4 separate regions of the Homo sapiens genome follow, and all the other regions are linked to region 1. The links come from fine-mapping of genetic effects on gene expression. A gene starts in region 1. Each other region holds a variant in brackets. All regions are shown on one strand. Distances are between the middles of the regions. Region 1 holds the start of RABGGTB (Rab geranylgeranyltransferase subunit beta). Region 2 overlaps MSH4 (mutS homolog 4). Region 3 overlaps MSH4 (mutS homolog 4). Region 4 overlaps MSH4 (mutS homolog 4).

Region 1 (8,141 bases):
AGCACTAAGAGTGTATAAAAGATGAGGATCATGTCCGATACTAGCACTTATTCCACCACATTCATGTTGGCAAGACTTAATAAATGCCAGAATCTCTTCTCTATTCATGCGATGAAGTTGTCCCATGAGATCCATTACTGTCAGACCCCAATAGATGCCACTCATTCTCAAATACTCAGACATACAGTATTCCTAAAATAATACACAATTTCTTAAATCTGTCATTTGAACTGGTAACAAGTTATAAAGAGATTAAACACAAAGGTAACTCATTAGCCATGCTGCTATTTTTACCTCTCCTGACCTTAACAGCACTGATCAGTAGTGAGTTTAAAATCTGTGCTGCTCAATGTTAGAAGCCATCTTCAGACACAACTATTATCAGAAAAAAACAATTATCTGAGAAGCACAGGATTAGTTAATCTATGGCTGACAATACAAACAGTGCTTTAGTTTCTCCCATGAGCCAGAGACAGAAAAACATCTACCTTTTTCATCAGTGAAGTTCAGGGAGAGTATTTCTTTCCGAGTACCTATACCATATTTATCAGACATCTATTTTAATGTGGACTCTGTACAAAACCTATTATCTATTAGTAAATTATATAACTACATGAAAAATCAAAATGCCCTAAACATGCCAAAGATGTTTAAGCCCAGATAAAACAGTGGCTAATCAATGATACATGAAAATTAGTATTAGGATTCCAGAAACAAATTTTTCCCACACTCAACAATGCATTATATTTTAAGAAGTTTTGTGGCTGGGTGGTGGCTCCTGCCTGTAATCCCAGCACTTTGGAAAGCTGGGGCAGGCAGATCACTTGAGGTCAGGAGTTTGAGACCACTCTGGCCAACATAGCAAAACTCAGTCTCTACGAAAAATACAAAAACTAGCTGGGCATGGTGGAATGTGCCTGTAATCCCAGCTATTCAGGTGGCTCACTTAAACCCAGGAGATGGAGGCTGCAGTGAGCCCAGATCGCACCGCTGTCCTCCAGTCTGGGCAACAAAGTGAGGTTATAGCTCTCAAAAGGAAAAAAAGAAGTTTTTTTAACAGGTGGTGCATCTTAGTTTGCTACTAACCCAAATTCAGGGCATAAAGATAGATAGCAGATAAAGGCAGAAACGAGTCCAGCCCCATCCATATGGCCTTAACTCCATGATTGCTAATAGAGTATTTTCAAGGTTATGGGAACCTAACACTTAAGTAAAAAATTAATACATACCATATATCCCACAAATCGGTAGACTAAGACAACTGAGTTTGGATACTACAGGGAAAAACATTTACTCTTAACTAAGTTGTTTACTACTTTTTGCTAAGATTGTCCCAGAGTTTTCCTCGAAATTTAAAAATTTAAGGTAAAACTTTTTCAAGGTCTCAGAGTAATTCTAGAGCTAAAGTGTTATTACACATCAGCAATAGATTCAGATAATACATGCCAACACATCATTGACCTTGAAAGTATTACCCCTAACTACAAAAAGAGAAACCCGTTTTGTACCTCAAACCCTCATCTACTTTGTCTGGCAAGCCCTCTCAGTATAGGTAAAAACTGAGATTCTAATAAGCCCACAGCCTCAGACGTCCAAAGCACACTTAACTGAAGTTCAAAGGCACAGCACATCCTCAGTTCTCTGCATGGAGTTGGATGCCATTTTAAGACATAAATACTGTCTCACTGCTTATGACTGTCACACTTCTTTAAAATAAACTTTCCAACATAAAAAAATTATACATACATAATCATCTTTCTTTGAGCCATAGGATGCGATATAATCTGCATGTTTCTCCAATAACAAAGTGTCCGGTGCATCTGACTTGATAATAACATCCTTCTGTGGAGTGCCCTTTCAAAATAAAGTGGTAATCTCATCAATGTTTACCTCTACAACGTTCTTCTGCCCCACAGCATAGATTCAACATACATCTCAATTTTCACTTGATTTCATCTTGTAATAGGAAAACGTTCCATTTAAAAATTGTAACTAACTAGGGAGGCTGAGGTAGAAGATCGCTTGAGCCAGGGAAATTAAGGCTGCAGTGAACTGAGGTTGTGTCACTGCACTCCATCCTGGGCGACCGGAGACCGACTCAAAAACAAAACCAAAACAACAACAACAACAACAAATTGTATCCAACAAAAAAGAACTTAAATCATTCAGGCTTCGTCTTAGTCACGATTCAGGTAATTTTCAGGTCTCAGAGTAATTCTAGAGCTAAAGTAGTAATAATCAACTTTAGATTCAGAATACATGCCAACTCATCATTGACCCAAAAAATTACCACCAGCATTTCTTGTTGTTCACTTTTCATTCAAAAAGATAAGTAAAAAATAAACACCATAGAATATCAAAGCTTATCATTTCAGGACAACTTACGGTTTACATGTGGCAGAAAGCATATTTTTAAAAAATAAAAAAATCTAACCCTTAACTTGCAAGCGAATTCTTGCTTAATCAAATGCAGGTTTCAAAGCACCTTCTAAGTACCCCAAAAGTTGTTCAAATGTATTAAATAAGCAGTTCCTTTAGCTCCATCTTCTCCACCTTTAATCCGAGTCTCTGTATTTGCAGAAGTCCCCATGTGATGCGGCTCTAGTTCTTTTCGTATCTATATCTTCCTCATTGAGAGTACACTGCAGTCACTATAACAGGTCATGAAGATTACCGGAAGTGATTAAGTACCGAATTTTCTTCTGATCCCATTAAAAATCTTAAAGCGAGACCACATCACTAACGATTTTAAAGAAATCTTTGACACCCCCTCTCCAAGAAAAAAAAAAGCCACCAATCAGCCACAGCTTTTTAGAGGGGTTCAGAAATCGGGCTGCTCAACTCTTAACAGGCCCTCCCTACAGAAGAAGGCCTGGATAAAATTAGAAGCGGCATTGCCCGCGAGGTCTGCAGAAAACGCTGAGTAATATTTCACACTCAAAAAACCTTCCAAGGCCTGTGTCCTAACCATTCTCCAGCACCAGGAAACCAATCCTAAGGTGACCAGTGTGCTTAACCCTACTCCACCCTGTCTGCTACCAACCCATCCGGACAGCAGCGCTAAACTCACACTTACCATGTCTAACAGGGAAAGGAGAGAGCAGGGTCAGTTCCTGGGTAGACTTAGGAGCCGGGCGCCTGCGCAGATGCGCCTCTCAGGCCCCCATCGCGCTCCGATATAGCTGACCACACTTTCGCCTGCAAGGCAGAGCAGTTCCACGGCTGCCGTAGGACCCCACTGATCGCTCATAGGTGTCCTCACTGCCTGCGTCCAAAGTCCTGCGACCATATGCTTGTCCCATAGTCACTCCGATTTGTCTAGAAACAGTTTTAAATAATATTTAAATATCTGAGTTGCTTTTAAGAAATCATTTGTTCTAGCTGGACGCGGTGGCTTACGCCTGTAATCCCAGCACTTTGGGAAGCCGGACAGCAGGATTGCTTGATCCTAGGAGTGTAACCACCCAATATTGTGGTTCACTTTGCCTGCTGCTGACCGATAGCCCATTTATCAAGACAGGGGACTTGCAATGGAGTCTCCCCAAGCAGTATTCAGAGTTTTTAAAGATAATTCGGCGATTAGGGGCTTGGGAAGTAGGGAGTGCTGATGGGTCAGGTTGGAGATGGACTCATAGTGGGTAGACGTGAGTTTTTCTTGCTGTTTTCTGTTCCTGGGTAGGATGGCAGAACTGGTTGAGCCAAATTACCAATCTGGGTGGTTTCAACTGATCCATGGAGAGCAGGGTCTGCAAAATATCTCAAGAACTTATCTTAGGTTTTACAATAGTGATGTTATCCCCAGGAGCAATTTGGGGAGGTTCAGAAACTTGGAGCCAGAGGCTGCATGACCTCTAAACTGTAATTTCTAATCTTGTAGCTAATCTGTTGGTTCTGCAAAGGCAGACTGGTCCCCAGGCAAAAAAGCGGTCTTTTTGGGAAAGGGATATTATCAATTTTGTTTCAGAGTCAAACCATAAACTGAATTCCTCCCTAAATTGGTTCAGCCTAGGCTCAGGAATGAAGAAGGACAGCTTAAAAGTTAGAAGCGGCCGGTGGCTCACGCCTGTAATCCCAGCACTTTGGGAGGCCAAGGCGGGCGGATCACGAGGTCAGGGGATCGAGACCATCCTGGCTAAAACCCCGTCTCTACTACAAATACAAAAAATTAGCCGGGCGTGGGGGTGGGCGCCTGTAGTCCCATCTACTCCTGAGGTTGAGGCAGGAGAATGGCTTAAACCCGGGAGGCGGAGCTTGCAGTGAGCAGAGATCACGCCACTGCACTCCACCCTGGGCGACAGAGCGAGACTAGTCTCAAAAACAAAAGTTAGAAGCAAGATGGAATCCGTTAGGTCTGATTTCTTTCACTGCCATAATTTCCTCAGTTATAATTTTGCAAAGGCGGTTCCAGGAGATCCAGACCAGCCTGGGCAATGTTGCAAGACCCCCGTCTCTACAAATAATAAAAATATGAGCCAGACGTGGTTGCCCAAGCCTGTGGTTTCAGCTACTGGGGAAGCTGAGGTGAGAGAATTACTTGAGCTGTGGGGCAGGGGGTGGAGGCTACAGTGAGCGGTGATAATGCCACTGCACTGCAGGGTGTGAGACAGAACGAGACCATGTCTCAAAAAAATAAATCATTTGTTCTTGAGGCCCTTTGCACTCTGAAAATCTGAAATGGCTGTTAATTAGTAGAGTGCCTGCTTACACGTAGTAAGTGTTCAATGAATATTTTTTAAATGAATATTAATGAAATGTTCACATTTCCTTCCTGTTTGCCTTATCTATCTCAAGGTCCAGCCCTGTACCCGCCCCCTCTCCTCGCCACACACACAGGCCACCCTCCCCACCACCACCACCGCCACCACAAACACTTCTTCGGAGAGTGCTAATAGTAAAAATATTGGAAGTTACTTTTTTTAAAAAAATTATACTGTAAGTTCTAGGGTACATGTGTACAACGTGTAGGTTTGTTACATGGATATACATGTGCCAGGTTGGATTGCTGCACCCATTAACTCATCATTTAAATTAGGTATTTCTCCTAATGCTATCCTTCCCCCCTCCCCCAACACCATGACAGGCCCCTGTGTGTGATGTTCCCTGCCCTGTGTCCAGGTATTCTCATTCTTCAATTCCCACCTATGAGTGAGAATATGCGGTGTTTGGTTTTCTATCCTTGTGATACTTTGCTCAGAATAATGGTTTCCAGCTTCATCCATGACCCCACAAAGGACATGAACTCATCCTTTTTTATGGTTGCATAGTATTCCATGGTGTATATGTGCCACATTTTCTTAATCCACTCTATCGTTGATGACATTTGAGTTGGATCCAAGTCTTTGCTATTGTGAATAGTGCCCAATAAACATACGTGTGCATGTGTGTTTATAATCTTTGGGTATATACCCCGTAATGGGATCACTGGGTCAAATGCTATTTCTAGTTCTAGATCCTTGAGGAATCACAACACTGTCTTCCACAGTGGTTGAACTACTTTACACTCCCACCAACAATGTAAAAGTGTTCCTATTTCTCCACATCTTATCCAGCTTCTGTTGTTTCCTGACTTTGTTTTTCTTCCTTTTCTTCAACTTCTATTTTATTTTGATTTTTTTTATTATTATTTAAGTTTTACGGTACATGTGCACAACGTGCAGGTTTGTTACATATGTATACATGTGCCATGTTGGTGTGCTGCACCCATTAACTCGTCATTTAGCATTAGGTATATCACCTAATGCTATCCATCCCCCTTCCCCCGACCCCACAACCGTCCCCGGTGTGTGATGTTCCCCTTCGTGTGTCCCTGTGTTCTCATTGTTCAATTCCCACCTATGAGTGAGAACATGGGGTGTTTGGTTTTTTGTCCTTGCGATAGTTTGCTCAGAATGATGGTTTCCAGCTTCATCCATGTCCCTACAAAGGACATGAACTCATCCTTTCTTATGGCTGCATAGTATTCCATGGTGTATATGTGCCACATTTTCTTAATCCAGTCTATCATTGTTGGACATTTGGGTTGGTTCCAAGTCTTTGCTATTGTGAATAGTGCCGCAATAAACATACGTGTGCATGTGTCTTTATACCATCATGATTTATAATCCTTTGTGTATATACCTAGTAATAGGATGCCTGGGTCAAATGGTATTTCTAGTTCTAGATCCCTGAGGAATTGCCACACTGACTTCCACAATGGTTGAACTAGTTTACAGTCCCACCAACAGTAAAAGTGTTCCTATTTCTCCACATCCTCTCCAGCACCTGTTGTTTCCTGACTTTTTAATGATTGCCATTCTAACTGGTGTGAGATGGTATCTCGTTATGGTTTTGATTTGCATTTCTCTGATGGCCAGTGATGATGAGCATTTTTTCATGTGTTTTTTGGCTGCATAAATGTCTTCTTTTGAGAAGTGTCTGTTCATATCCTTTGCCCACTTTTTGATGGGGTTGTTTTTTTCTTGTAAATTTGTTTGAGTTCATTGTAGATTCTGGATATTAGCCCTTTGTCAGATGAGTAGGTTGCAAACATTTTGTCGAGTAGGTTGCAAAAATTTTGTCCCATTCTGTAGGTTGCCTGTTCACTGTGATGGTAGTTTCTTTTGCTGTGCAGAAGCTCTTGAGTTTAATTAGATCCCATTTGTCAATTTTGGCTTTTGCTGCCATTGCTTTTGGTGTTTTAGACATGAAGTCCTTGCCCATGCCTATGTCCTGAATAGTATTACCTAGGTTTTCTTCTAGGGTTTTTATGGTTTTAGGTCTAACATTTAAGTCTTTAATCCATCTTGAATTCATTTTTGTATAAGGTGTAAGGAAGGGATCCACTTTCAGCTTTCTACATATATCTAGCCAGTTTTCCTAGCACCATTTATTAAATAGGGAATCCTTTCCCCATTGCTTGTTTTTGTCAGGTTTGTCAAAGATCAGATAGTTGTAGATATGTGGCATTATTTCTGAGGGCTCTGTTCTGTTCCATTGGTCTATATTTCTGTTTTGGTACCAGTACCATGCTGTTTTGGTTACCGTAGCCTTGTAGTATAGTTTGAAGTCAGGTAGCATGATGCCTGCAGCTTTGTTCTTTTGGCTCAAGATTGACTTGGCAATGTGGGCTCTTTTTTGGTTCCATATGAACTTTAAAGTAGTTTTTTCCAGTTCTGTGAAGAAAGTCATTAGTAGCTTGATGGGGATGGCATTGAATCTATAAATTACCTTGGGCAGTATGGCCATTTTCATGATATTGATTCTTCCTACCCATGAGCATGGAATGTTCTTCCATTTGTTTGTATCCTCTTTTATTTCATTGAGCAGTGGTTTGTGGTTCTCCTTGAAGAGGTCCTTCACATCCCTTGTAAGTTGGATTCTAGGTATTTTATTCTCTTTGAAGCAATTGTGAATGGGAGTTCACTCATAAGTTGGCTCTCTGTTTGTCTGTTATTGGTGTTTAGGAATGCTTGTGATTTTTGCACATTGATTTTGTATCCTGAGACTTTGCTGAAGTTGCTTATCAGCTTAAGGAGATTTTGGGCTGAGACGATGGGGTTTTCTAAATATACAATCATGTCATCTGCAAACAGGGACAATTTGACTTCCTCTTTTCCTAATTGAATACCCTTTATGTCCTTCTCCTGCCTGATTGCCCTGGCCAGAACTTCCAACGCTATGTTAAATAGGAGTGGTGAGTGATGGCATCCCTGTCTTGTGCCAGTTCTCAAAGGGAATGCTTCCAGTTTTTGCCCATTCAGTATGATATTGGCTGTGGGTTTGTCATAGATAGCTCTTATTATTTTGAGATACATTCCATCAATACCTAGTTTATTGAGAGTTTTTAGCATGAAGGGCTGTTGAATTTTGCCGAAGGCCTTTTCTGCATCTATTGAGATAATCATGAGTTTATGTCCTTGGTTCTGTTTATGTGATGGATTACATTTATTGATTCAAGACTTGCATCCCAGGGATAAAGCCTATTAGATCGTGGTGGATAACCTTTTTGATGTGTTGCTGGATTCGGTTTGCCAGTATTTTATTGAGGATTTTTCATCCATGTTCATCAAGGAAATTGGTCTAAAATTCTCTTTTTGTTGTGTGTCTGCCAGGCTTTGGTATCAGGATGATGCTGCCCTCATAAAATCAGTTGAGGATTCCTT
Region 2 (6,612 bases), 100 kb before region 1:
TTTGATTTATCACATACTTTTAAGCATAAAATAGATTTTTCTCATTCTATATAATAAATCATTACGAGCTGGGCATGACGGCTCAGCCTGCAATCACAGCACTTTGGGAGGCTGAAGTGAGTGGATCACTTGAGCCCAGGAGTTCAAGACCAGCCTGGGTAACATGGTGAAACCCCGTCACAGCTAAAAATACAAAAATTAGCTAAGCATGATGGTGCATGCCTGCAGTCCCAGCTACTCAGGAGGCTGCGGCAGGAGGATTGCTGGAGCCTGAAAGGTGGAAGTTGCAGTGAGCCAAGATTGCGCCACTGCACTCCAGCATGGGCAACAGAGTGAGACCCTGTCTCAAAAAATAAATAAATATAATAAAAATAAATAAATCATTATGGACTTTCATTTAAGGTAAATAACTTCATCTTAGGGACATTTTAAGGTATCTTAAATAAGAAAAAGTATTTTTATTTCAGTTTTGTTCATATCTGTATATATTGTGAGTGACCATTTAAAAAGATATTTTATAAATTAATTTAATAGAGCAAAAATCAATGTTTTACATAGTTGATTTGTGAAAAACTACTTTCTTTAAAGGAATAAAATTTACTTAGGTAGGTAAAATAGATTTTCTGTAAAGTTACCTGAGTTGCCTAGTGCTTTCCTTCCTGTTGTAACATCATAGTCAACATCATTGCACATGGAGGCAATTACTGAAAGACCTTCATATTTTGCTACTGAATTTGATGAAATTAAAGCCAACTGACTAATTTTGCATTATTTGAATTTCTTGATTTCATCTTTTCCTTATCTATATCATGGTTATCAAACTAATGATTCCCACTTTCATTGGAAATGAAGGAACAAAAATATAAATGCGATGATATGTGTTTACTATCTAAATTGTTTTAAAAGCTATTTGTGGGTGTCCATAAAATTCAATAATAATAAAAGGATACATAAAGAAGGACTCAAAATCAATATACTTAAAATAAAAGAATACCTTTAAGCTCAGTAGATATTCACAAACAGCATAACAAATGCCAATACCTTCTTCCGTATTAGTACCTCTGCCAAGTTCATCAATTAATATGAGCGATTTGTCATTAGCATTATGTAGAATATATGCTATCTGAAATATATAATTTTAATATTTATTCATTGTAACCAAACAGCTGTCAATATCACAGGAAAAAATGAGGAGAAACCCAGTCTCTTTATAAGTTCATCTGAAATGTATTCTTAGAGACATCCTGCTGAGCAGAAAATAATAGTTTTCTTTTCTAAAAATCTCATGACTAATAATTCCAGTAGAATAGCTGATGTGTACATAAATAGACATATGCATATGTATATGAGACAACAGAGTAAATAACCATTATCTAAAATATTGATGCTTTAGATACAGTGAAAAAATGCAATAAATTAAATGTTTAAACTAAGCACAAAGATGGTCATTTTCTTCTCCACAAATGACTAATCAATTACTGCTATAAAGTATCCAAAACCATCTCTCAAATTTATTTAAGTATTACTCTATACCCTGTAAAGATGAAGTAAAGAAAAATTTAAGAAAAAATACCTAAGTCTTGATTCTTGGTTTAACAAATAAATTTAAATCCATGACCAATGGAGACTAAGACTTAAATTGACAGAAGTGCTCTTTTCCACTGAAGATTATTAACCTCTTTCTCAAAAATAGAATTTTATCTTTATTATATTATGACACAATAGTAACTTTGATGGACATTTTACCTTTCTATGAGACTAAGCTTTTTGAGTGCTAGGACCATTTAAAAATATACCTTAAGTGCCTAATATATTGCTACGATCTATTATAGATATTCAATACACAATAAATAATTATATAAATCATGGGACAAATGATAACTTTAGTCACCACCTATCTACTTGAAGAAAATTTTCCAACTAAACAGTGATCCTAAATTCATAATACAGATATCCCAAGAGTTACACTTAATTCCTTCAGTTCTAAAGCCTACTTGACGTTTGCTCAATCAGAAATAGGTGATACTTTGGTACAGGGAGTGAAAATTCTATGAGAACAAAGAAGAGGATGATTTTTGAAACCCTTCTAACACAGTAATCTTTTGTTTTAAAATCAAGCCTATGAAGAACAATAAATACTATGCAAAATGGTACTGAACCAGTTATCATTTTCTGAAGTCTTTTACGTATTTCCTATAAAAACATTTAGGCACACTTTTATTACTTAATAATGCTAGCTCTTTCTCTTAAAATTATATTTTCACTTAAACATTGTCTTCCATTTCCACATAAAACAGAAATTAGGAGGCTGTCTTTGACTGCCCTCTGGCTCTTAGAAAAGGGTATAAGCAACATCTGCATATTTTAGTATAAAAATATTTTATGTGATAACTGGCCATTAGTGAGAGAATTTAATGTTTTTAACATAAGAAAAGTTTTGTTTGGGTACCTCTTTCATTTCTTTCATAAATGTTGATGAATTTGTTTCGATATCATCATCAGTACTAATTCTTGTAAAAATCTGTTTAGCAATTCTAAAGGAAGAATATTCTGCTGGAACATATGATCCTGTAAAATATAAGGTCAAGATAAACTGAAATGTGTTTATAAAATATAATTACTAATAACATTTTGTACTTCTCAGATTATTTACAAGGATTATATGGTAGAAAGAACACTAGATATGGCATTAGAAGACATGACCCCAGTTCTATCCCTTATTATAAAAGCTTAGACAGCACTTAAACTTTCCCAGTCCTAGCCGGGCGTGTTGCGGGGAAACTGTGGTCCCAACTACTCGGGAGGCTGAGGCAGGAGAATGGCGTGAACCCGGGAGGCGGAGCCTGCAGTGAGCCGAGATCGCGCCACTGCATTCCAGCCTGGGCGACAGAATGAGACTCCGTCTCAAAAAAAAAAAAAAAAAAAGTTGCCCTACCTACTGTACAAAGTTATCCAGAAGTTCAAATAAGGCAGTAAATGTTCAAGTACATAACAAACAGACAGTTATAAACACAATAAAAATTTTAAATAACTTACTTGAATGATAACATTCAAAATATTAAAATATGAAGGGAATGCTTATAAAGCTTATGAATATAATATGCCAGTTACACTGATCTAATCATTATACATGGTATGTATTCAAACATCACTATGTATCTCTTAAATGCGTGCAATTATTATGTCAAAAATAAAATAAATTAAAAAAAGAAATATGAAAATCTGAAGAAAATGCCTATAAAGCTGAAGTTAATAAAATCATTATAAAAAGATATAAAGAAATATCTGTGATTACAAACATGGAGAAACATTCAGAAGCAAAATAAAAGCAAAACATTTAATAAAAAGAAAAAAAAGGTGAATTTTCACCCACAAGACTGTTTCTGCCCAAGAAGTTATTGTGCTAACTCATCTAAAATATTCGTTTTTTGAAAACAAATCAATCTGATTAATGCACCAGTCTCAATATAGAATAAAATCTAAAATGCATTCTAACATTATAAGAAGATAAAATATACAAATAGTTGAAAGGGAAACGTACCACATATACAGAATTCTGTATAGGTAAAATGGTGAAATAATAGCAGCAAAAAAACCAAAGCCAGATTACTCCAAGATTAAAAACAAAAAAAGGGTAAAGAATAGGGCTTAACTCTGAGGAATAAGGAGTAGCAAGAAAAGAAACCAAAAGTCAGATTAATATTAATGAAAATAAAAGTAATAATCATAACAGTAGTAATTATAATAACGGCACCTATACCATTCGACATACTAGATATTTTATATCCACTCTTCCTAATTTTCAAAATAACCCAATAAATTATAAAAACTAGAAAGATGTATCTCCCCCATTCTACTCTATTTTTTTGCTTGTTTTCCTAAAAGGATGAATTATGAACCTAGAGTGGCTTCTGACACATAATCTCATGATAAATGTTTGCTGAAAATAAATAATGAAGTGATAGAGCCAGAATTTGAATCAGAACTTTCTGGCTAAAAACAAAAACAAAAACATAAACAAACTGTCCATTTCCAAGAAAACAGGAATGACCTGCTACCTTCTTAAGATTCTGGAGAAGGGTGGGGACAATTTGCTAATTTAGGGCAAAGATTATTTGTCAGGCTGCATGGGTTTGAATCCTTGTGCTGCCTCTTACAAACTATATAATCTTGGACAAATTCCTTCTCAATACTTTGACTTACTCATCT[A/G]TAACATGGAGTTAATAATCTTTATCATATTTTTATGAGTGTTAACCAGATAACACTTCCAGTTTCCAGGCAGATAAACGTGAAATGCGTATTATCATGCAAGGTATATACAGCAGTGATGGGCATAGTGAACACTCAATATTAGCTACTGGGGTGTATTAGTCTGCTGCTTCACCCTGCTATAAAATCCCTGAGACTGAGTAATTTATAAACAAAAGAGGTTTAATTAACTCACAATTCTGCATGGCTGGGGAGGCTTCAGGAAACTTACAATCATGACGGAAGGCAAATAGAAAGCAAGGACCGTCCTCATATGCGAGCAGGAGAGGGAGAGAGCAAGGTGGGAACTGCCAAACACTTTTAAACCATCAGATCTTGTGAGAATTCACTATCACAAGAACAACATTGGGGAAACCGCCCCCCATGATCTAATCACCTCCGACCAGGTCCCTCCCTTGACACGTGGGATTACAATTCAAGGTGAGATTTGGGTGGAGACACAGAGTCAAACGGCATAATGGGGCAAGTGGGGAAGACTAAGGTAAAGGATTTATACTGGGTGATCTTGGGCAAGTCTTTGAGCCTGACTTTCCTCATTTTATAGAAATTCAATACCTATTTATTGAAGCCCTTCTATGTGTTAGGGTAAATAAACAGACATGGGTCCTGCCCTCAGAGAGCAGAACTTAGATTTCAAATACAACTTTCTTATGGAGTTTCTAGGAGAATAAATGTGAAATAAATGTGAAGGTAATATATATATATATATAATATATATATATATGTACCAGTGTGAGTATATATATATACTGTTTAGTATATATAAGGTATAATAACTATATACATATTTTATATATAATGTATATAATATATTTATATATAATGTATACATTTATATATAATATATTTATATATTATACATTATAATGTATATAATGTATAATGTATATATTTCTATATTTATACATAATTATATATTTATATATTTATATATTATACATTATATAATATATAATACATTATATATTATACATAATAACTTGCATATAATACATCGTATATAATAGATAATAATATATATAATACATCATATATATTATATATAATACATCATATATAATACATCATATATATTATATATAATATATAATACATCATATATATTATATATAATATATAATACATCATATATACCATATATAATATATAATACATCATATATACCATATATAATATATAATACATCATATATACCATATATAATATATAATACATCATATATACTATACATGCTATATATAATACATCATATATACTATACATGCTATATATAATACATCATATATACTATACATGCTATATATAATACATCATATATACTATACATGCTATATATAATACATCATATATACTATACATGCTATATATAATACATCATATATACTATACATGCTATATATAATACATCATATATACTATACATGCTATATATAATACATCATATATACTATACATGCTATATATAATACATCATATATACTATACATGCTATATATAATACATCATATATACTATACATGCTATATATAATACATCATATATACTATACATGCTATATAATACATCATATATACTATACATGCTATATAATACATCATATATATTATATATGTTATATAATACATCATATATATTATATATACTAAATAATACATCATATATAATATATACTATATAATACATATAATACATTACATATACTATATAATATATAATACATTACATATACTATACATAATATGTAATACATTATATAGTATATATACTATATAATACATTATATATACTATATATAATACATTATATATACTATATATACTATATAATATATAATACATTATATATACTATATATACTATATAATATATAATACATTATATAAATAATAATATATAATATATAATATATAATAATATATAATATATATTATATATAATACATATGTAATATATAATACATATACATATAATACATATAATACTTTACATATACATATATATTACCTTCATTATATAAATGTGAAATAAATGTGAAGGTTATATGTATATATATATGTACCCAGTGTTTGTGTGTGTGTGTGTATATATACATATATATATATATATGTATATACACACTCAGGATACCAACTGAGGTGGGAGGTGGAGGAAAAGGGTGAAAGTATATGTGAAAACCAAAATGTTACATACCTTTATATATATATATATACACACACACACACACACACACACCCCCAGTGTGAGTCTATATATACTACGTAGTATATATACGGTATTATATACATATTTTATATATATAATGTATATAATATATATATTTATATTATATATAGAAGGTATATAT
Region 3 (8,568 bases), 25 kb before region 1:
CAAGTTGTTAAGTAAAAGGTTTACCTCCTTTGAATAAAACTGATGGTTAAGAAAAGGTAATATTATATCAATAGACTATGTAAGCGCTGTTAAGAATGAAAAAATATCATGACCAAGTAGGGACATATCTTATTAACTCCGGTTTTCATATAAATAAAATTCTGAAAAGTCAAGTAACTTTTCTGATATTATACAGTTGATCTGTGCCAAAGCTGAGACTCAAATTTAGATTTCTTTGAAGTCCATTTTCCTTATACTTCATATTGCTTTTGATTTAATGCAGGTCTGTTTTTTTTTCTTAAGAGAGGGGTCTCACTATGTTGCCCAAGCTAGATTTGAACTACTGGGCTCAAGTGATCCTCCCACCCTGGCCTCCCAAGTACCTGGGACTACAGGCACATGTCACTACACCTGGCTAATGAAGGTCTTCTTATGGTAAGTGTAGTCATAATAGTAATAATGATAATAAAAATATCGAATTTTCCCTCTGCTTAGAATACTTTTACCTCAAATACCTCCATGGCTTGCTCCCTCACTCCATTCAGAACTTTGCCCAAATGTAACCTTATCAATGAGGCCATCTCTGATTACCCTATATAAAATATCAATTTTCTAGGAGGTTGGTATCTCCTATTGTCCCTAATTTACTGATGAAAAAAACTGAAGCTCCAAGAAGTTAAGTGTCTTGCAGTAGGTCACGTAGAGTCAAGATCTGAAACCGGGACAATCTGACTTCTCTATTCTTAAGCACTATGCTATACTGCCTTACTATTCAAATGCACTGAAATTATGTTGTTTTTGCCTTTGGAGGACTTATCCCCCATTCCATGTGATTCTGGAAGGCCTAGCTATCATAGTATTCTGTGTCTCACAGCAAAAGGATTAGTCAATTATAGTGTATCTACCCCCAGAAATAGTGATTACTCTAACGTGTGAGAAACTGAACAAAGCGGAATCAGTCAGCATCCTTCCCTGGAATTCATACATGGACACTGGAATAAAGAAATTATTTTCCCTCTGGGTTAGCTAAGCTGAGATGACATCAGCCTTGAGCCATTAGCAATCATCTTCTTAAATCTCATAGAAGTAAACTATCTGCAGTAGAAAAAGGATGATATGGGGAATGAGAGTAGTGATAAAGATGCTCTCTTTGACCAAACTCTACCTGGGCTACTATAAGCCTTCTTCTCAACTAAGCCTCCAACTGGCCTATAAAGACTTGAACGAAACACTAACATTGTTTCTAACTGCTCAAAGCCACATCCCTAGGATGACCTTAGCCTCTCATAAAGTGCCAGCCTAAGAAAACTCAGGCTGCCAAAAAAAATTTACTGTTTATTCCACTTAACACCTAAAAATAGGGTCCCTGTCTCCTATCCTCTGTGGGAGAATAGGAGCCTAACTTTGGTAAGTGCCAGTTAGCAAACCCAGATTTTTTGTTGTTGTTCTTTTGAGATGGAGTCTTGCTCTGTTGCCCAGGCTGCAGTGCAATGGCACAATCTCGGCTCGCTGCAACCTCTGCCTCCCAGGTTCAAGCGATTCTCCTGCCTCAGCTTCCCGAGTAGCTGGGACTACAGGCGCGTGCCACCAGGCCTGGCTAATTTTTTTGTATTTTTAGTAGAGATGGGGTTTCACCATGTTAGCCAGGATGGTCTCGATCTCCTGACCTTGTGATCCACCCTCCTCGGCCTCTGAAAGTGCTGGGATTACAGGCATGAGCCACCGCACCTGGTCTTACTTTTTGTTATAATAATTTTTCACTTCCCTGACTCTACTGAGCTTGTGCTTACTCCTCCTTATTCCCTTAGTCTCCCATTAAAATGCCCAGTATAAACCGAAGTTCAATTCAGTCCACACTGGACTCTTTTCTCTGTTGCAACAGCATATTACTGATTAAAATATTTAGCTAGTGTTTGGCTTTGTTTACCTTTGACAGTAGGAACAGGATCTATTCAACCATTGACTTCCCAGTTACATAAGCCAATACATTTCCTTTTTTGCATAAGGTAGTTTACATTAGATTTCTCTTATTTATAACCAAAAGAATTATAAGGCCTAATCACAACAACAACAACAACAACAAAACATGAAAGTTGGAAAGGTATGGATAAATAGGCATAATGAAAAGAAGTATAAAGTTATAAATGAAAAAGAACAGATAAAGTGATTCGTCTAATAGAGACAATAGATTTAGAATAGGGACTATCTCTGGCAATGAGTCAAAGGCAGCTCATCTATACAGGAAATCCAAGAGCACCATGACAAATCTTATATGACTGCAGATGCTGAATATATTAGGAACAGGAAAGGAACTCATTGGACTCCAAACCTCAGCTTGGTTCCAAATGTGTTAAAGTAAAAGATAAGTCTAAAAACATAACAAAATATAGTATATTCTGAAAATAATTTGCATTCCTAAGGAATTATTCCAACTGCAATGCTGTCTACTTGGTTTGGAGCCACAGCCCCCATTCTTGTTGGATAAGGTTCCACAGTGCTTACCCACTACAGTCCTACAGATAGACACTAGAGTAGCAGGCTAACTGGAAGGCAGTACATGTTATCAGGGGAAGCTGAAACAATTCTGTAATACAAATTAAATTCCCTATAGAAAAAGGTACTTGCTGATAGCTGCTATCCCCTAAGAACTTCAATTTCAACCAGTCTGACAGCACAATAAGTAGTTTCCAGGAAAATACATGTAAGGGAAACTTATGCTTTCTCTATGGGTCTGCCCCTTGTATATCTGAGAAACTTCCTTATTACCTAAAACATGTTTTCTTTTGTTTAAAGTAGATCAGGGTGCCAAATCAAATAAGTAAATTCCCTATCATTTTTATTATCTGTATTAACAGTCCCTTAGATTAGGATTTGTATTTAGTGACTACTTTAGGACACTAAATATAAAGTTACTAAAATTATTGTTCTTTATAATGATATTATTAAGTAAATTTTAAATAAAGTGATTAGGGCCGGGCACAGTGACTCACTCATGCCTGTAATCCCAGCACTTTGGGAGGCCAAGGCAGATCGATCACTTGAGGTCAGGAGTTTGAAACTAGCCTGGCCAACATGGTGAAACCCCATTTCTACTAAAAATACAAAAATTAGCTGGGTGTGGTAACACACGCCTGTAGTCCCAGCTACTTGGGAGGCTGAGGCAGGAGAATCACTCGAACTCGGGAGCTGGAGGTTGCAGTAAGCCGAGATCACGCCCTTTCACTCCAGCCTGGGTGACAGAGTGAAACTCTGTCTCAAAAAAATAAATAAATAATAAATAACAAATAAATAAATAAGTGATTAGATCTTGAATGTTACAAACAGTAAACATCACTTACCTTGAAATTTTCTGTGATCAGAGTGAACAACTTGGTGGAATTCCCCACAGCACAAGCAGTATTTGACATTATTATTTCCAAAGGTGATAAAATTTTAAGTTTAGTGATCACCTGAAATCATTTGAATAAACAATTTCTTAAATAAAGCTTAGGAAATAAAAGTTTCATATTTTTCTGAGATAAGTATTTAAAATTAATTCATAGATACACAAAATTATAACTGTCCTAATGATATATTTCAATTAAAATATGTTTCTAGCCAGGTGGGTTCACACCTGTAATCCCAGCACTTTGGGAGGCTGAGGTGGGCAGATCACTTGAGGCCAGGAGTTCGAGACCCACCTGGCCAACATGGTGAAACCCTGTCTCTACTAAAAAAAAAAAAAAAAAAAAAATACAAAAATTACCCGAGCATGGTGGTGCATGCCTGTAATCCCAGCTACTCAGGAGGCTGAGGCATGAGAATAGTTTGAGCCCAGGGGGCAAAGGTTGCAGTGAGCTGAGATCACACCAGGCACCTTTGCACGCCAGTCTAGGTGGCAGAGGGAAAATCTGTCTCAAAAACAGACAAACAAACACCACCACCACCAATAACAATAAAATATATATGTATATATATTTCTAATGGTAGTATATTGAACATATATCTCCTATATAACTACTAACATAAAATACTGTCATAAAATAGGCTATATTTTACTCACAATAGTTTCTAACAGCCTTAAGTTCAAAAATTAATTTGAACTTATCAAATATATATTCCCAAAATAAAATTGTTTTTAAATAAATTCTTATACTTAGTATTTTATCCAAATACTCTGTGAAAAATGTAAATACATCCAATAAGGGTAACTATGGGCCAGGGGAGGTGGCTCACGCCTGTAATCTCAGCACTTTGGGAGGCCAAGGCGACTGCATCACTTGAGGTCAGGAGTTCACAACCAGCTTGGCCAACATGGTGAAACCCTGTCTCTACTAAAAATACAAAAATTAGCCAGGCTTGGTGGTGTGCACATGTAATCCCAGCTACTTGGGAGGCTGAGGCAGGCTGAGGCAGGAGAATTGCTTGAACCCGGAAGGCAGAGGTCGCAGTGAGTCAAGATTGTGCCACTGCACTCCAACCTGGCAACCTGGGCAACAAAGTGAGACATTGTCTCAAAAAAAAAAAAAAAAAAAA[AG/G]GGTAACTATGGCAATACAATCAGTATGGCCACACTGGTACAGATTAACTGTTGAAAAGTACATAAACACAGATGAGAAACATCTGCCTTATGGCTTAGCTTTTCATAAAATAAGGTGTATTTCTTAGAACTATTCCAAACACAGAAATTCTCAATTTGTCTAACATTCCTTTTTTTTAAAAACTTTTTTCCTACTCTTTTGAAATTGTAAAAATGTATAAAATACCTACAGATGAAGTTAGTATGCAATACTAGTATCATTAAGGTTGTTAGGTATAATAAAAAATTAATTATTAGGAAAGGGAAGTCTACACACTGGAGGACCATAAAGAGGGACTAAAGGAAGAGAATTAAAAAATAATGAAACACTTGAAATAAAACACTAGATCACATCTTCAAAATAATAATTAACTAGGCTCGATGGCTCATGCCTATAATTCTAGCACTTTGGGAACCCGAGGGGCAATTCAACTTCTGAGGGGGCAGGATCACTCGAGTCTAAGGAATTTGAGACTAGCTTGGGTAACAGAGCAAGACCCCATCTATACAAAAAAAATTTAAAAATCAGCTCTATGTGGTGGTGCATGCCTGTGGTCCCTGCTACTCAAGAGGCTGAGGTGGGAGGCTGCAGTGAGTCACGATCATGCTACTGCACTTCAGCCTAGGCAAAAGAGCAAGACCTTTTAAAAATAAAATAAAATAATAATTGAGTTAAATAACATAGAAATTAGGAGTAAACTATCTCTACCTGATAGATCATGCAAATTCCCATGACAATAGGCGAGTGGCCCAAATGAATGATGAGTGATATAAAATGAAGGCAAAATAAGAAGTGAAGGCAAGAAATTAAGAGGCTAAATTCTGACTGATCTAAGATACTAGTTTTCTTTACCTCTGAAAAAATAAAATTCAAATACAGTTCAGTAGAAATAACTCTCTGGAGTTAGCATTATCATGGGTTTGGGCCATAATCCTGAAAGACACAATCTCAAATGCCATAATCCTGAATGTCAAAATCCCAAAAGAGCAAAATCCTTAAAGTCTAAAAATCCCCAGAACCCCAATACCAAAAGACCAAAATCCCAAAAACACAGTTCTGGAAGAAATAACTTCAAAAACAATTTTAAGACATTGATTTGCATTTTTAAAAGGGGATTTATTTGAGAAACATATAAAAACAGAACAGTACACTTCATAGGCCACTTTACACAATAAAATAGGCAATAATAACTTTTTTGCAAGCATGAACACTTAAGTGTACTAATGACAGTCACACAGGTATAATAACAGTTATGAGCAGACAAATTGTATTCACAAAAAAATTAGTCAAAAATTAGAAATTAGTCAAAAAGCAAAATGTATAAATGCATATCACTATGGTTGGTAATTGTCTGCACCAAGCTTCATAAATATGGTCATCTGAAATACCACCAGGGACAACCTAAGTCTTTTGATGAGATAGATCAAAAACTTCTATGGGTCACCACATACACAGTTGCCTGAAGAGCTAAGATTTCAAGAAATAAATTTTATCTTTCACAAATAAATGATGTACAAAAAGGACATGTCTTCATTTATCAAAAAAATTTCAACATTTTAATGTATATGCACAATGCTTACACACAGTCAATGTTGTGATAACGAACTTCTGTGGAGTCAAATTTCTGATGTCCAAGGCAGCAGCAGAAGAGTCTGTCCCAGCTCTTAGAGAGAGACAAATGCAATTTCTGTATTTGCTCTCTCTGGGCCCTGGTCAACTGCAAGGTGCCCACCAACACTAAGGGCAGATTTTCACCGCCTAGTCCACTCAGACTCACCCACTCATCTCCTCTGGAAGCAACCTCACAGACACAGCCCAAATAATGCTTTACTAGGTATTTTTTTAATACAGTCAAGTTGTCACCTATACTTAAATCCACAAGTCTATCCCTTGCCAATTTGGCACCCCTATGCATCTCCTTAAACCATACCTAATTTCCAAATAAAATAATAAGGTAGTAGTATTGCCTAATATGATGCATCTAACATGATGCAACTATCTTGTGTACAACCAAAAACGCATTAATCCCTTCCCTAGAATTAAGCTTTCAGGATTTCAACATTAAGGATTTTGATCTTTCAAGATTTGAACATCGGGATTATGGCATTTGGGATTGTGTCTTTAAGGATTATGATCAGTACCACATTATCACATATATTACCTTTGGAATAAATCCAGAAATTATTAATTTGAAGATGTTAATTTTAGAAACTAATACTAACAATAGCTTATTTAAATAACAGTAAAACACACTCTTTTTGGACAAAATATATTTAAAAAATAAAAATCAGATATAACACAGTTTTATTTTAATTCAGAGTATTTACATTGACATAATAATGAATAACCTTTATTCTACCAAAAAGTAAACAAATTGGGAAGGCACTGACTTTAAACTCTAGATACTGCCTAACAGAGCAACCATTTTCTAGAATTATTAATACTTACCTTTGCATATGTTGTGTTGTCTGCAAACTGGGATAGTATAATTTGGGGGTTTTTTAAATCAATACTTGCCATTCCTATTTCACCTCTGGCAAGTCCTCTCCCTTCTACAACAGCTACAATAACTGATGGGGAGTGTGCAGAAATCGCAGATGAGGATGAAGCTGTAAATTTTTAAATAAAGAAAAGATATAAACATTGATAATAATCATTTCTTTTTTTAAAAAAAACTAGGAAATTCTTAATCAAGAGGACAAAATAATGCAATCTGTAGATATCAGTTAGCCTCTTATTTCAATTCTCCCTAAAGGATCTATTGGTTCAGTACAACTATAATTTCAATCAAAACCTCAATATGTTTTTTGGTGGAGCTTGAAAAATTGGCCCAAAATTTACATGGAAGAGCAAAGGGCCAAGAAGAATCAAGACTCCTCTAAAGAAGAGTAAGGTGGCTTGTGGAGGGTACAGGTGGCAAGGCTGTCCTACAAAATATCAAGACTTATTATAAAGCTAAAGATGGTGTGATATTGGCACACAGCTAGACATAATGACCCATCAGAGTTAAAAAAGAACTAGAAACATAGAAACTAACAGAAAAGGCCGGGCGCGGTGGCTCATGCCTGTAATCCCAGCACTTTGGGAGGCCGAGGTGGGCGGATCACAAGGCCAGGAAATCGAGACCATCCTGGCTAACACGGTGAAACCCCATGTCTACTAAAAATACAAAAAATTAGCCAGGCGTGGTGGCAGGTGCCTGTGGTCCCAGCTACTCGAGAGGCTGAGGCAGGAGAATGGCGTGAACCCGGGAGGCGGAGCTTGCAGTGAGCCGGGATCGCGCCACTGCACTCTAGCCTGGGCTACAGAGCGAGACTCCTTCTCAAAAAAAAAAAAAAAAAAAAAAAAAAAAAACCAAACAGAAAAGTCATCAAAATATTTATTACTCAGAATATATAAAGTATTGCTACAAATCCAGAAAAATAAGCCTAAAGAAAAATGAGTAAAAGACATGAACATTAATTTCACAGACCATTATTAAAGATATATAGCCCAAAAGTACAGAAAAAGATAATCTCACTAGTAATCAGGAAAATGCAAACTCAGAAAATAAAAAACTCAGGTAGTATTTTACAACTGTTAGGTTGGAAAATATTGAGTCTAACAATATCAAATGTTGAAGTGGACTCTTACACATTGTTAATAAGAGCATACCATAATAACCAATAAATTAACCAATACAATTTATTATGATAATGATTATTGGCTAATTTAATAATAATCTTATGATGATGATGATGATTACTAAATTAGCCAATAATCATAATAAATTTTAGAAGTTAGTAATGATGAGGATAGAGTAAGATTGGCTTACCTTATACACTATTGATGGAATTAAAAATTAGTCCAGTTCTCAAAAGAAACTTGGCAATATATCTGAGATTCTTAAAAACTGGTAATTTTGGCCAGGCGCAGTGGCTCATAACTGTAATCCTAGCACTTTGTGAGGCTAAGGTGGGAGGATCACTTGTGGCCAGGAGTTCGAGACCAGCCTGGCCAACATGGCGAAACC
Region 4 (8,568 bases), 38 kb before region 1:
TGGTGTTTATATTATGGTGTATTTTTACAGTGGCTGGTACTGGTTTTTCCTTTCCATATTTAATGCTTCCTTCAGGAGTTCTTGCAAGGCAGGCCTGATGGTGACAAAATCCCTCAGCATTTGCTTGTCTGTAAAGGATTTTATTTCTCCTTCACTTATGAAATTAAGTTTGGCTGGATGAAATTCTGGGTTAAAAATTCTTTTCTTTAAGAATATTGAATATTGGCCCCCACTCTCTTCTTGCTTGTAGGGTTTCTGCACAGAGATCCGCTGTTAGTCTCATGGGCTTCCCTTTGTAAATAACCTGACCTTTCTCTCTGGCTTCCCTTAACATTTTTTCCTTTTGTTTCAACCTTGGCGAATCTGACAATAATGAGACAGAAAATTAACAAGGATATTCAAGACTTGAACCCAGCTCTGAACCAAGTGGACCTAATAGACATCTATAGAACTCTCTACCCCAAATCAACAGAATATACATTCTTCTCAGCACCACATAGCACTTATTCTAAAATCGACCACATAATTGTAAGTAAAACACTCTTCAGCAAATGGAACAGAATGGAATTCATAACAGTCTCTCAGACCACAGTGCAATCAAATTAGAACTCAGGATTAAGAAACTCACTCAAAACTGCACAACTGCATGGAAAGTAAACAACCTCCTCCTGAATGACTACTGGGTAAATAACAAAATTAAGTCAGAAACAAAGAAGTACTTTGAAACCAATGAAAACAAAGAGACAATGTACCAGAATCTCTGGGACACAGCTAAACCAGGGTTAAGAGGGAAATTTATAGCACTAAATGCCCACATCAGAGAGTGGAAAAGATCTCAAATCGACACCCTAACATCACAATTAAAAGAATTAGAGAAGCAAGAGCAAACAAATTCAAAAGCTAGAAGAAGACAAGAAATAACTAAGATCAGAGCAGAACTGAAGGAGACAGAGACATGAAAAACCCTTCGAAAACTCCATGAACCGGGGAGCTGGTTTTTTGAAAAGATTAACAAAATAGACCACTATGCAGACTAATAAAGAAGAAAAGGGAGAAGAATCAAATAGACACAATAAGAAATGATAAAGGGGATATCACCACTGATCCCACAGAAATACAAACTAACATCAGAGAATACTATAAACACCTCTACACAAATAAACTAGAAAATCTAGAAGAAATGGATAAATTCCTGGACACATACACCCTCCCAAGACTAAACCAGGAAGAAGTTGAATCTGTGACTAGACCAATAACAAGTTCTGAAATTGAGGGAGTAATTAATAGCCCACCAACCAAAAAAAGCTCAGGACCAGATGGATTCACAGCCGAATTCTACCAGAGGTACAAGGAGGAGCTGGTACCATTCCTTTTGAAACTATTTCAAACAATAGAATAAGAGGGACTCCTCTCTAACTCATTTTATGAGGGCAGTATCATCCTGATTCCAAAACCTGGTACAGACACAACAAAAAAAGAAAATTTCAGGCCAATATCCCTGATGAACATTGATGTGAAAATCCTCAGTAAAATACTGGCAAACCGAATCCAGCAGCACATCAAAAAGCTTATCCACCACAATCAAGTTGGCTTTATCCCTGGGATGGAAGGCTAGTTCAACATATGCAAATCACTAAATGTAATCTGTCACATAAACAGAACCAATGACAAAAACCACATGATTATCTCAATACATGCAGAAAAGGCCTTCGATAAAATTCAACACCCTTCATACTAAAAAACTGTCAATAAACTAGGTATTGATGGAACATATCTCAAAATAGTAAGAGCTATTTATGACAAACCCACAGCCAATATCATATTGAATGGGCAAAAACTGGAAGCATTCCCTTTGAAAACCGGCACAAGACAAGGATGTCCTTTCTCACCACTCCTATTCAACATAGTATTGGAAGTTCTGGCCAGGGCAATCAGGCAAGAGAAAGAAATAAAGGGTATTCATATAGGAAGAGAGAAAGTCAAATTGTCTCTGTTTGCAGATGACATGATTATATATTTAGAAAACCCCATCGTCTCAGCCCAAAAACTCCTTAAACTGATAAACAACTTCAGCAAAATCTCAGGACACAAAATTAATGTGCAAAAATCACAAGCATTCCTATACACCAATAATAGACAAGCAGAGAGCCAAATCATGAGTGAACTCCCATTCACAACCGCTACGAAGAAAATAAAACACCTAGGAATACAACTTACAAGGGAAGTGAAGGACCTCTTCAATGAGAACTACAAAAAGAACTCAAGGAAATAAGAGAGGACACAAACAAATGGAAAAACATTCCATGCTCACAGATAGGAGGAATCAATATTGTGAAAATGGCCATACTGCCCAAAGTAATTTATAGATTCAATGTTATTCCCATTTAGCTACCATTGACTTTCTTCACAGAACTAGAAAAAAAAATACTTTAAATTTCATATGGAATGAAAAAAGAGATCATATAGCCAAAACAATCCTAAGCAAAAAAAAAAAAAAACAAAGCTGAAGGTATTATGCTACCTGACTTCAAACTACTACAAGGCTACAGTAACTAAAACGGTATGGTACTGGTACCAAAACAGATATATAGACCAATGGAACAGAACAGAGACCTGAGAAATAACACCACATATGTTTGACAAACCTAACAAAAGCAAGCAATGGGGAAAGGATTCCCTGTTTAATAAACGGTGCTAGGAAAACTGGCTAGACATATGCAGAAAGCTGAAACTGGATCCCTTCCTTACACCTTATACAAAAATTAACTCAAGATGGATTAAAGACTTAAATGTAAGACCTAAAACCATACAAACCCTAGAAGAAAACCTAGGCAATACCATTCAGGATATAGGCATAGGCAAAGACTTCATGACTACAACACCAAAAGCAATGGCAACAAAAGCCAAAATTGACAAGTGGGATCAATTAAACTAAAGCGCTTCTGCTCAGCAAAAGAAACTATCATCAGAGTGAAAAGGCAACCTACAGAATGGGAGAAAATTTTTACAATCTACCCATCTGACAAAGCTCTAAAATCCAGAATCCACAAGGAACTTAAAAACATTTACAAGAAAAAAACAACCCCATCAAAAAGTGGGCAGAGGATATGAACAGACACTTCTCAAAAGAAGACATTTGTGCGGCCATCAAACATATGAAAAAAAGCTCATCATCACTGGTCATTAGAGAAATGCAAATCAAAACCACAATGAGATACCAGCTCAAGCCAGTTAGAATGTCGATCATTAAAAAGTAAGGAAACAACAGATGCTGGAGAGGATGTGGAGAAATAGGAACACTTTACACTGTCGGTGGGAGTCTAAATTAGTTCAACCATTGTGGAAGACAGTGTGGCGATTCCTCAAGGATCTAGAACCAGAAATATCATTTGACCCAGCAATCCCATTACTGAGTATATACCAAAAAAATTATAAATCTTTCTACTATAAAGACACATGCACATGTATGTTTACTGCAGCACTATTTACAATAGCAAAGGCTTGGAACCAACCCAAATGCCCATCAATGATAGACTGGATAAAGAAAATGTGGCACATATACACCATGGAATACTATGCAGCCATTAAAAAGAATGAGTTCATGACCTCTGCAGGGACATGGATGAAGCTGGGAACCGTCATCCTCAGCAAACTAATGCAGGAACAGAAAACCAAACACTGCATGTTTTCACTCATAAGTGGGAGTTGAACAATGAGAACACATGGGCACAGGGAGGGGAACATCACACACTGGGGCCTGTCAGTGGGTGGAGGGAAAGGGGAGGGAGAGCATTAGGACAAATCCCCAATGCATGCAAGGCTTAAAACCTAGATGATGGGTTGATAGGTGCAGCAAACTACCATGGCACATGTATACCTATGTGACAAACCTGCATGTTCAGCACATTTCAGCACATGTATTCCAGAATTTAAAGTAAAGAAAAAAAAAATTAGCAATATGCCTGTTGGTGACTGTGTTAGGGTGAGTTCTCCAGAAACAGACCCTGAGGCAAGGGCAATTTTCTTATCCCATGTTATGGGTTGAATTGTGACCCCCAAATGATACTGTGAAGTCTTAACTCCGGGTATCTGTTAGTGTGACCTTATTTGGAAATTGCATCTTTGCAAATGTAATCAAGCTAATGTGAGGTTATTAAGGTAGGTCTTAATACAATACGACTAGTGTCTTTATAAGACGACAATGTGAAGACACGCAGGGAGAAAACCATATGACAATAGAAGCAGAGATTGCAATGACAAACCTGTGAGCCAAGGCCCATCATGGACTGACAGCGACCACCAAAAGCTAGAAAGGGGCAAAGGATTCTCCCCTATAGGTTTCAGAGGGAGCATGGCTTTTCTGACACCTTATTTTAAGTTTCTAGCTTCCAGAACTGTAAGACAAAAACTTTCTGTTGTTTTAAACCATGGAGTAGGTACTAGTTTTTAGAGCAGCCTAGGAAACTAATATATCCTATCCGTTGATAATTACGTAGTCTGAACAAATCTTCCCATCTTTGAGGATTACCATGGAGAAAAAGAATGTAAAGTATCTATGAACAACAACAACAAAAACAACAACAAAAAAAAA[C/AC]AGAAAAAAATGGAAAAGAAAAGCATACAGGAAATCAAAATACATTACATAATGTACCCCTGAAATTATTTACTACAGGACTCAGTAGAAAATTTCAGGAAAATATTTTCCATAAAAGAATACAAGAATTAACACCTTCACTACTTGTCTTTCAGAAACATGGAAAAATAACTAAGCCAACTGTATTTTTCAATAATTTGTATTTATAATATTAAATAATATTGATTTACCTGATTGAAGTCCAAAAAATAGTTCCTCATCTTGAAGTAGTTCTTGAACACAATCTAATCTCATGTTAATGGTTTCAATATCAACTAGAGGCTCTAATATATTAGAACGAAGTCGTCTACTCCCTCCAGGAGTCTTAGTATAATTTAGAACACCAAAGAGAGTGTGATTATTCCTTTCAAAACACAAGAAATGTCAGTAAGAATACAAAGAAAAACGCAAGAAAATTTCATTTCACTTTGTAATTAAATAATCCTATAATCTACAGCAATGATTCTTTTTTTTTTTTTTTTTTGAAACAGAGTCTCGCTCTCTCTCCCAGTATGGAGTACAGTGGCGCGATCTCGGCTCACTGTAAGCTCCGCCTCCAAGGTTCACGCCATTCTCCTGCCTCAGCTTCCTGAGTAGCTGGGACTACAGGCGCCCGCCACCACGCCCAGCTAATTTTTTGTATTTTTGTATTTTTAGTAGAGACGGGGTTTCACCTTGTTAGCCAGGATGGTCTCCATCTCCTGACCTTGTGATCCGCCTGCCTTGGCCTCCCAAAGTGCTGGGATTACAGGCGTGAGCCACCGCGCCTGGCCAGCAATGATTCTTAAACTTTACTGTGCATACAATTACATAAATTTCTAATTCAGTAGGTCTAATAAAAAGCATGAGGTTCTACATTTTGGGCCACGCACGGTTGCTCACACCTATAATCTCAACAACACTCTGGGAGGCCAAGGCAGGAGGAATACTTGAACTCGGGAGTTCAAGACCAGCATGGACAACATAGTGAGACCCCGAGTCTACAAAAAACTAAAAATTAACTGGACAGGGTGGCACAGGCCTTTAGTCCCAGTTAGTCAGGAGGCTGAGATGGGAGGATTGCTTGAGCCCAGGAGGTCAAGGCTGCAGTGAACCATACTTGCACCACTGTATTCCAGTGTGGAGACAGAGTGAGATCTTGTCGCAAAAAAAGTTTTTAGATATATTTTGATTTTTTGAAGGGATTTTTGTGTCTCTATTTCCTTCATTTCTGCTCTGATCTTAGTTATTTTTTGCATTCCGCTAGCTTTTGAATGTGTTTGCTCTTGCTTCTCTAGTTCTTTTAATTGTGATGTTAGGGTGTCAATTTTAGATCTTTCCTGCTTTCTCTTGTGGGCATTTAGTGCTATAAATTTCCCTCTACACACTGCTTTGAATGTGTCCCAGAGATTCTGGTATGTTGTGTCTTTGTTCTCGTTGGTTTCAAAGAACATCTTTATTTCTGCCTTCATTTCGTTATGTACCCAGTAGTCATTCAGGAGCAGGTTGTTCAGTTTCTATGTAGTTGAGCGGTTTTGAGTGAGTTTCTTAATCCTGAGTTCCAGTTTGATTGCACTGTGGTCTGAGAGACAGTTTGTTATAATTTCTGTTCTTTTACATTTGCTGAGGAGTGCTTTACTTCCAGCTATGTGGTCAATTTTGGAATAGGTGTGGTGTGGTGCTGAAAAGAATGTATATTCTGTTGATTTGGGGTGGAGAGTTCTGTAGATGTCTATTACGTCCGCTTGGTGCAGAGCTGAGTTCAGTTCCTGGATATCCTTGTTAACTTTCTGTCTCGTTGATCTGTCTAATGTTGACAGTGGGGTGTTAAAGTCTCCCATTATTATTGTGTGGGAGTCTAAGTCTCTTTGTAGGTCTCTAAGTACTTGCTTTATGAATCTGGGTGCTCCTGTATTGGGTGCATATATATTTAGGATAGTTAGCTCTTCTTGTTGAATTGATCCCTTTACCATTATGTAATGGCCTTCTTTGTCTCTTTTGATCTTTGTTGTGAATCCAGGAGCTGGTTTTTTGAAAAGATAAACAAAATTGATAGACCACTAGCAAGACTAATAAAGAAGAAAAGAGAGAAGAATCAAATAGATGCAATAAAAAATGATAAAGGGGATATCACCACTGATCCCACAGAAATACAAACTACCATCAGAGAATACTATAAACACCTCTATGCAAATAAACTAGAAAATCTAGAAGAAATGGATAAATTCCTGGAGACATACACCCTCCCAAGACTAAACCAGGAAGAAGTTGAATCTCTGAATAGACCAATAACAGGCTCTGAAATTGAGGCAATAATTAATAGCTTACCAACCAAAAAATGTCCAGGACCAGATGGATTCACAGCCAAATTCTACCAGAGATACAAGGAGGAGCTGGTACCATTCCTTCTGAAACTATTCCAATCAACAGAAAAAGAGGGAATCCTCCCTAACTCATTTTATGAGGATATATTTTGAACAAGCTCCCATATATGCTATTGGTCAATGAACTACACTTTAACAAGGATGAATAGAATCTCCTTGCACTTTATGACTTCTTTTATAGATCAGTTACAATATTCACACTAATATAAAGTTTTCTAGTCTATTTATTCCATCCATAATAGCAAGATATTAATAATATATCCTTAAGGGTGGAGGGGCTTTTATATTGTTAAAATAAATATTTACTATAATGATCTTGTTCTGATGACAAGTACAAGACAATTTCATAATTCCTAGGTGATTTATAAAGAAATGAGCTATTCTAAAGAATGCTGGTCAGTCAAGGTGGCGCATGCCTGTATTCCCAGCACTTTGGGAGGCAGAGGCAGGTGGATCACTTGAGGTTAGGAGTTCAAGACCAGCCTGGCCAACATGGTGAAACCCCATCTCTACTGAAAAAAAAATACAAAAATTAGCCAGGTATAGTGGCAGGCACCTGTAATCCCAGCTTCTCAGGAGGCTGAGCCATAAGAATCACTTGAACCCGGGAGGCGGAGGTTGCAGTGAGCCGAGATTGCGCCACTGCACTCCAGCCTGGGCTACAAAGTGAGACTCTGTCTAAAACAAACAAAAACAAAGAAACAAAAAAATTCATTTAGTTGGACTATTTATTAGACAACTTCATATAATACATGTAAAAAATCTGATTCATTTTAATATTTAACAAATACTTTTTGAGCCCTTATGGTATTCAAAACTCTATGCTAAACACTGGGCATATAAGACGGACATGATTCCTGTCTTCACAGACCTTACAGCCTAATGGCGATTGCCAATAACTTTTTATTTATTTATTTATTTAGACAGAGTCTTGCTCTGTTGCGCAGGCTGGAGTACAGCAGCACTATCTAGGCTCACTGCTACCTCTGCCTCCAGGGTTCAAGTGATTCTCATGCCTCAGCCTCCTGAGTAGCTGGGATTACAGGTGTGCCACTATGCTGGCTAAATTTTGTATTTTTGGTAAAGACAGGGTTTCACCATGGCGACCAGGCTGGTCTCAAACTCCTGGCCTCAAGTGATCCACCCACGTTGGCCTGCCCAGGGTGCTGGGATTACAGGCATGAGCCACCGCACTTAGCCATTGACAATAACTTTTGTCAGTTTACTGGCCGTGACTGAAGACAAGACAAAGAGCGAGGGGAAATAAACAATAAAAACAATAAACACATAATCATATCAAGAAAATAATTTTAGGTACAGAAACAGCTAAAAAAAACAAAAACAGGCCGGGCACGGTGGCTTACACCCGTAATCCCAGCACTTTAGGAGGCCGAGGCGGGTGGATCATGAGGTCAGGAGATCGAGACCGTCCTGGCTAACACAGTGAGACCCCGTCCCTACTAAAAATACAAAAAAAAAATTAGCTGGGCATGGTGGTGGGTGCCTGTAGTCCCAGCTACTTGGGAGGCTGAGGCAGGAGAATGGCGTGAACCCTGGAGGCAGAGCTTGCAGTGA

Evidence for each region. PIP is the estimated chance that this variant, and not a neighbour inherited with it, causes the effect.
Region 2: its variant is fine-mapped to the expression of RABGGTB in whole blood (TOPMed, PIP above 0.99).
Region 3: its variant is fine-mapped to the expression of RABGGTB in whole blood (INTERVAL, PIP above 0.99).
Region 4: its variant is fine-mapped to the expression of RABGGTB in whole blood (INTERVAL, PIP above 0.99).

The regions. Positions count from the first base shown.
Region 1 is chr1:75,781,210-75,789,350 of GRCh38, reverse strand. RABGGTB (Rab geranylgeranyltransferase subunit beta) reads right to left here and starts at 3,095. Exons shown (of 9, transcript NM_004582.4): 1 at 3,077-3,095; 2 at 1,747-1,854; 3 at 1-192. The coding sequence starts at 3,079. SNORD45C (small nucleolar RNA, C/D box 45C) reads right to left here and starts at 2,279; the gene lies at 2,202-2,279. SNORD45A (small nucleolar RNA, C/D box 45A) reads right to left here and starts at 1,462; the gene lies at 1,379-1,462. RefSeq lists a silencer at 3,004-3,063 and enhancers at 3,124-3,353, 4,294-4,513.
Region 2 is chr1:75,885,207-75,891,818 of GRCh38, reverse strand. It overlaps MSH4 (mutS homolog 4), which reads right to left. Exons shown (of 20, transcript NM_002440.4): 16 at 2,450-2,568; 17 at 995-1,123. Among named protein-coding and RNA genes, the nearest start is that of ASB17, 44 kb to the left of the region's middle. The variant A/G (reference allele first, on the strand shown) is at 4,210.
Region 3 is chr1:75,805,578-75,814,145 of GRCh38, reverse strand. MSH4 (mutS homolog 4) reads right to left here. Exons shown (of 20, transcript NM_002440.4): 3 at 7,005-7,165; 4 at 3,339-3,449. Among named protein-coding and RNA genes, the nearest start is that of MSH4, 13 kb to the right of the region's middle. The variant AG/G (reference allele first, on the strand shown) is at 4,516.
Region 4 is chr1:75,818,835-75,827,402 of GRCh38, reverse strand. MSH4 (mutS homolog 4) reads right to left here. Exons shown (of 20, transcript NM_002440.4): 7 at 4,822-4,994. Among named protein-coding and RNA genes, the nearest start is that of MSH4, 26 kb to the right of the region's middle. The variant C/AC (reference allele first, on the strand shown) is at 4,592.